2 linked regions of the Homo sapiens genome follow. The protein of the gene in region 1 interacts with the protein of each later gene in a pairwise test. Each region holds a gene or a part of one and is shown on either strand. Other genes may lie near its edges.

Region 1 (3,828 bases):
ATACCTTCTTTTACACCCAGCAACATATTTTATTTGCACAAAACAATACATTCAAACATATTTGCTTCCTTCTTACCTATTTCATCTTTCCTCATGTCTTTCAGCTTATCCACAGTAAGCTTTTTTTCTTCTAATCTTGTTAGGATGTGTGGTGGTAGGATTGAAAATTGTCTCAAAGGGCTAGCCCAACCCCAAAGCCTCTTGTCAATGACTTTACTAAGATTCAGGAGCCTGTAGGTCATGGTAGGCCAACGTTTCCTCAGAGCAATTTCAAAAAGAGCACGGACAATTCTAGCTGCATTCTAAAAAATTATAGGAGGAGATTGGTGGTTATACCCAATGTGCTTTTAAATTTGTCAATAAATCTATTATTCAAACTCAGTCTGAAAAGAAGTGCAAGTCAAGCTGCATCCTTGAATTGTGGGGCAATATCTTTTCTCATATAATCCTAATTATCTTATTATTTCTACATAAGAATAATCCTATCCTTTATATGTGGATGCTACTTGCTTACTCTCAGAGGGGAAGCCTTATTTCCAAGTTCTTAGAAAGCTCTACCTTCTAAACAGGAATGAAGTAGGAAGAGACAAAAGGCATGCAAAATATTTAGGAGGCTGTTAAGGCATCTGACTATAAGAGACAAGGACGCCTCTTGGTGAATAGTGGAATGATTAAATTTACAAGGCTATTTAGAGGATTAAGGAAGACTGGGATCCTGATAGGGAAAAAAAATAATGAGAGAAGGGTGACAAATGAAATACTGATTAGTGTAGCTACTCATATGAAAGGGCCATACAAATGGCTTCCTATAAACCAAACAATGTGTTAACTTGCTTTACATATATTGCCTCATTTAACTTTTACAAAAATTGCATTTAATTGATATTAATATTATGATTTTATAGATGAATATACTAGGGCTTAAAGAGGTAAAAAATTTGACCAAGGTCACACTGCTAGTTGGTGTCAGAGCATCTACTCAAAGCCAGGACTAAAGGACTCCAAATATAACTGAGATTCTAGACTCAGTGGTCTGAGGATAACTTTATTAATAGACATATAGAAAGTTATAATGAATGTAGTCTTTTTCTTCACATTTCTACAGCTAGCTCCCATTTATTTTGCCTCCACTCCTCTATCATTAACTTTGCAGATTGTTTTATTAAAGATTGTTTTTTAAATGAACTTATACCTTCCAAAATCCAGTAACATCTGTATTTGAAAATAAAGAATGTTCAGTCTGGTTAAAATCCAAACAAGAGATACAAAACTGAAAAGATTTCAAATGGCAGACAAACAATCCAGCCTAAAATTATGAAGTCAAAAATGACAGATGAGTTAAAGGCTTTCATTTCACATTTTATATAAGATATGCGCTGTCTTTTGATAAATTTGACTATTTTGTTTCAGTATTAGAAATTAAAGTACAAAATGGTAGATAGAAGTATGAGGACAGTTCTGATATCCATTAAAAATGACTGAATGGGTCTTTATAAGGCCCAGAGAATAATAAATAAAATTTTGATTACTGTATCTACCAAATAGGTTTTCCTACCTCATTCCCACTTGTTCTTACAAAAAACTATCAGGCTAATTTTCCTGCCTTTGAAAGTATGTCATTTTAATATTTCAGGATCTACAGTTATCCCCTCAATGCTAAAAGAAGTAGGAGAAATTCCATATGACAAGATACAAACAGGACATGTTAATCTAGAATGATATAAATTGGTTCAAAATAATAAGTCTATAACATGTACAGTCTAGAAAAGTTAAGCATAGGCCTTTAAATAAAATCCTAGAATATTTGAGCTATAGGTTTACCTTAGGGGCTGAGGAGAGAAAGTTTAAAAAATATAGAAGAAAATATCATTTTACAGAGTTGAGAGAGTAGTTGTTCAATTACTGATAGCTTAAACTTAAAATGTAATAAAGTATAATTTATCTGATGCATTCAGGGATGCTAAATCCATAATGGCTGTTTAAGAAAAAACAGGGATGCTTTGAGATATCCTTAATCAGAAGTTGACTTCCTGGATACCAATCATGAAGAGAATTAAAGTTTTACATTGTAAGCAATTCTTATGTCAGTCTCTGATAATATCTTCATAATCTTGAAGCAAGCAGAAATGTTGCCAGATTATTCATCCAGAACCCAGTAAAACTTTACCTTTTATTTAAATGATTAACTATTTCAATATAAAATCATTAGAAAATATAAAATGACAATATTACATTACTTTACAGAAAAACAGATAAAACAAAGGAGATTAGAAAATTATTCCTATAGAAGCTATAGGGTTTAAAGAATATATAAATATTTTCACTACATCTATATTAACTTTATATAATTTATGAATTATATAACCTGGTATCTTGGTTACATTGATTAAATTACTACATGCATTCAAAATGTTTACCAATATGTCTTGGTTTGTGTTTGTAAATATTCCATGTTTAAAGGACTCCTGAGTACTCATGGCTATTAATAATGATATATTTAACACAAACATTCTTTTTCTATATTTAGTCTTTCTTTGAACAAAATTACAAATATAACAGCAGAATCATTTCCATATTTAAAATAAAATTAAGCTTTAATTTCTTCTTAATTTATAAAAGGAAGTACTCAATAAAATAAAATTAAAAAGCCTTGACAGGTAAATAATTTTTTTAAAAAAGTATGTCTAGAAGGGAAATCTTTCATTTGAAGGATAAATAGGGTAAAATATAACCTACTTTACTTCACATAAGGGCTTGAATATAAAAACACAAATATTTGAACAGTTTATACCATGGTATTTTTTAAAAGTTATAAATTAAATGAGCTGTAGTTTAGGGAATAATTTTCTTTCTGTCCTCAATGTTTAAGTTTCAACAGTAGAGAGGAGAGATTACTTTTGTAAAAACCAGAGACATCACACTGAACGTATGGTAGGAAATATGTTTACTACGCCTTGTTTAATGATTAAAAATATTATTATTTCTAATATTTGGTAAAAATCTAAAAAAGTTCCACAATCTTTTCTTTATGCTTGCAATATTCTTTAACTTTTCTCTTTATAAGTACTTTATATTCTTTTACTTTATAAGTAAAAGAAATGAAATTCATCATTTAAAGTAGAAAAAAATCAGGTATCATTTTAAAACTTTGTAAGAAACATCAACATCACCAAAAAAAGCCCTATCAGTCACCAAATCTCATCCCCAGTCCTGTTTTATGAGCATAGATTACATAAAATATTTACAAATTAGCAGAAACAGTTCTAAGTAAAATGGTGGTTTGGTAGCATGTCACAAAGCAATGCATTCATAGCACAGCATGAATTAACACCTTGGTCCTCTAAATATATTCAAGGAAGAGAAAACTGGAAGGGAATAAGATACTTACCTGTGCAACATATGCAGAATCTGATATAAGGGAGAAACTGTCCATTTCTCCTCGGCTGATATAAGTTTGAAGTAAGATGTTTATTTTCCCATAACTATTCTCTACACCTCCAGGAGTGGAGAGTTCACAAAAATTGCTTAATAAGGTATCTAACTCCTCTATTTCCTCTTCTCTGACCTAGAAGAATCAATGTATTTATTGGAATTTTGGGGCTGATTTATTTAAATTTTTCACATTGAAATTAAATACATTGCATGTTTTTAAAGAGTTTCCATTTACTATAATGCAGCATTTTTCTTTCATAGAGTTAAATAACAATGATTTTTCCATAGGTAGCTAAAAAACTGCAATATGAAATGATCTTGAGGCTGATACAATTACATTTTATTATTCATCACCAATATTAAATTTGCCATTGACATATAAAAATTTGATATGCC
Region 2 (3,828 bases), on another chromosome or scaffold:
AGAGCGAAACTCTGTCTCAAAAAAAAAAAAAAAAAAAAAAAAAAAAAGACGGGAGCAACAATATCTGGCAAATGTGGCCTCCAACAGACATGTAAGAGTAGACCACCACTGGGCATGGTGGCTCACGCCTGTAATCCTAGCATTTTGGGAGGCAGAGACAGGCGCATTGCCTGAGCTCAGGAGTTCGAGGCCAGCCTGGGCAACATGGTGAAACCCCCTCTCTACTAAAATACAAAAGAAATTAGCTGGGCATGGCGGTGGGCGCCTGAAGTCCCAGCTACTCGGAAGACTGAGGCAGGAGAATTGCTTGAACCCAGGAGGCAGAGGTTGCAGTGAGCCGAGATCGTGCCACTGCACTCCAGCCTCGGCGACAGAGCAAGACTTGTCTCTACAAAAAAAAAAGTACAGCACCTAATTAGCTTGGGGGCAAGATATCACAAATATCAAAAGGGGCATTCCACATTTTGAAATATAATCTCTGAGCACAAACTTCAGCACGGGACAAGTCCAACTGTAAGCAAGTTCTACACTGAGCACTGGCTTGAAGTCAATCCTGATTTAAAATTAGTTAATAGGCCGAGAGCAGTGGCTCACACCTGTAATCCCAGCACTTTGAGAAGCCAAGGCGGGTGGATCACCCGAGGTCAGGAGTTTGAGACCAGCCTAGCTAACATGGCGAAACCAGTCTCTGCTAAAAATAACAAAAATTAAAGGGTGTGGTGGCTGATGCCTGTAATCCCAGTGACTCAGGAGGCTGAGGCAGGAGAATCACTTGAACCCAGGAGGCGGAGGCTGCAATCTGCCAAGATCGCGCCACTGAGCTCTAGCCTGGGCAACAGGAGCGAAACTCTGTCTCAAAAAAAAAAAAATCAGTTAATAACTACACCTGAAGAATATAAACTTATCTAGCAGCCACTGGCAAGAAATTTCAAAGTGCTGGTCTTCTGGAAGCAGCAAGCAGCAAACTACCATAAATGAGTCTAAAATTATTATCTTCATTAGGCTTAACCAATGTCTTAAACTACACTGTTAACTAAATTTCCCTCAAAACCTTAAAGGCACCAGAATAAAGCTCAGGATCCCAAGTCTTAAGGACTAGTCCAAGCTCTAACTTTGCTGTGAATAAACCTTCAGTCAGTCATTTAATATGCTTTATTCATTTCTTCTGTAAAATAGAAATGGGCAAGGATATTTCAAGGAATCAAAACTAATAGTGGAAAAATTCAAAGTTCCTAAATGAAACACAGCCAACCTCTTGTTAAGAATTAAATAAAATTATATATGTAAAACTGCTCAAGAATAATGTTTGCCACATTTTAAACACTTAGTGTTAGGAACTGTTATTACACATTAATTTTAGTCAAATAGGAAAAAATATAAAACAACCCGATCAAGAAACTAAATATTTAATAATCCCAATCTTGTCCATTACCTCGGCATTCAAAACCTTGGAATGAAAATAATAGTTTAGCCTACTAGATAATGCAGCAGGAAAAATAAAATTATGATACCTTGGCTGATAGGTGGTTGTGTTTTTTTTTTTTGAAATGGAGTCTTACTCTGACGCCCAGGATGGACTGTGGTGGCGTGATCTCGGCTTACTGCAACCTCCGCTTCCCAGGTTCAAGCGATTCTCCTGGCTCAGCCTCCCAAGTAGCTGGGACTACAAACACACACCACCATGCCTGGCTAATTTTTGTATTTTTAGTAGAGATGGGGTTTTACCATGTTGGCCAGGCTGGTCTCAAACTCCTGACCTGAAGTGATCTGCCCACCTGGGCCTCCCAAAGTGCTGGGATTGTGAGCCATTCATTGCTCCCACCTGTTGATAGGTTGTTTGTTTGTTTTGTTTTGTTTTTTGATGGAGTTTCCCTCGACGCCTACGCTGGAGCGCAATGGCACAATCTCGGCTCACTACAACCTCCGCCTCCGGGGTTCAAGCGATTCTCCTGCCTCAGCTCCTGAGTAGCTGGGATTACAAGTGTGCGACACCACATCCGTCTAATTTTTGTATTTTTAGTAGAGATGGGATTTCACCATGTTGGCCAGGCTGGTCTCAAACTCCTGACCTCAGGTGATCCACCTACTTCAGCCCCCCAAAGTGTTGGGATTACAGGTGTGAGCCACTGAGCCCGGCAGGTTTTTATATTAATATTTTATTAGTTTAAAATAACTTTTCCTTACTCTAGCTGTCATTTTTTTTGTTATTCCTTTCAAATCACAAATTCTTCAGATACATGTCTTTTCCATTTGTTTCAAATATTGAGCAAGCCTGAATATCCAAACATAGAAACATCAGAAATCATAGGTGTATCTCTGAAAAATGCTGTTTTGAGCCCACGGGAATTGTGGCCATTGTACCATTTGCAAATGGAGATAACACCAAAGCGCAAATTATCGAGTCCTAGAAAAACAACAGATGTAGTGGTCAAGAAGCAAGATGTGTGCCAAAGAGGATAAGAAAAAGAAGCCCTGGCTGGACACAGGGGCTCAAGGATGTAATCCCAGCCCTTTGGGAGGCCAAGGTGGGCGGATCACGCGGTCAGGAGTTCAAGACCAGCCTGGCCAACATGCTGAAACCTGGCCTCTACTAAAAGCACAAAAAAAAAAAAAAAAGAAGCCCTAACTCCTCCACTCCCTGGCTACATAATTTTGGGAAAGTCATTTTATCTCTCTGAGCTTCATTCACTTTATCTGTAAAACGGAATAATAGTCTTACTTCTCTCACAGGATGTTTGGAAAGTCAAATGAGGAAACATACTGCAAAGCACTTTATGGCCTAAAAACTGCAATACAAATATATCAATCGGTATTTTGTTGTTGTTGCATGAGCAATGTTCAACATACAGGTTAAGTTACACACTAAACATAGAATTTTCATTTCAAAGTAAACCATTACCATTATTAAAAATTGATATAAAAAACTTGCCTTGGATTGATTTCTCTTTCCACTTCTCATGCTAAACTTCTCCTTCATTTCTTCTAAAATTATCTTCAGTTTCTTTTCTTCAGGTGTTCCTAAGTATTTTTGGTTCACATGAAGATAGCAATGCCATTTAGCTGATTCAAAGCCCCAGTGGCAAGTTCTTTTGTCAGGTGATCTGTGAGAATGCATCACAAACGTCTGGGGTGCAAACATTCCACAACACTCCAGACATTGAATACACGGAGCATCAGGCTGAACATAAAACTGGGGTGCAAATAAACCCTGACATTTGCCTAGGCATTCATGCTCCACTTCAAAGGCACTGCCAGTTTCCTTTAACTGGGCCAATGAGCTTTTAGCAGGAAGTACGCTACCATTTTGAGGAAAAGTTCGTGGCCGCAATAAAGCATTACATAATCTTTGTGCATCAGTTAATGTAATCAGCCCACAGGATGGGGCATTGAATGGAAGTATGCCCAGTACCTTTAAGATATGAAGCTGGTCTGAAGTACACCTTGAACAATATATGTACAGTTCATCACACACTGTATTTATTTGCTGGAGTGTAAATTCTCGGAGAACAGAATTTAAGACTTGGGGCAAACAGAGTCTCTTTTCTCCTCCAACTTGAAAACAAGAAATAGATTCCCCTTCCAACACAGTCTGAGTGAGTTCTGTGGAGCTATCTGAAGGGATGAGCAATGGGCCAGGAAGAACCTGAGGTGATGGAAGAGGCAGAAATACAGTAGGCGACATGCTTTCTTGGGAATGCCGAGCAGAAAATGCTGCTGGTCCACCCAGCGAGCTCTGACTACTTAAATGGAATTGTGCCAATGTGTGTTTCAAACTGGGATTTAAATGCAAAGTTTCAGGAACAGAAGTACAGGTTCGCTTAACATGCT

The links.
Region 2: the proteins of ASCC3 (region 1) and SKIL interact in a two-hybrid assay, tested with the Homo sapiens proteins (one large-scale study listed by BioGRID and IntAct).

Annotation. Positions count from the first base shown.
Region 1 is NC_000006.12:100,647,150-100,650,977, forward strand, and holds part of ASCC3 (activating signal cointegrator 1 complex subunit 3), read right to left. Parts: intron 3,566-3,828; coding exon 3,389-3,565; intron 303-3,388; coding exon 77-302; intron 1-76. UniProt on the Homo sapiens protein: ATPase involved both in DNA repair and rescue of stalled ribosomes. 3'-5' DNA helicase involved in repair of alkylated DNA: promotes DNA unwinding to generate single-stranded substrate needed for ALKBH3, enabling ALKBH3 to process alkylated N3-methylcytosine (3mC) within double-stranded regions.
Region 2 is NC_000003.12:170,360,531-170,364,358, reverse strand, and holds part of SKIL (ski-like protein), read right to left. Parts: coding exon 2,930-3,828; intron 1-2,929. UniProt on the Homo sapiens protein: May have regulatory role in cell division or differentiation in response to extracellular signals.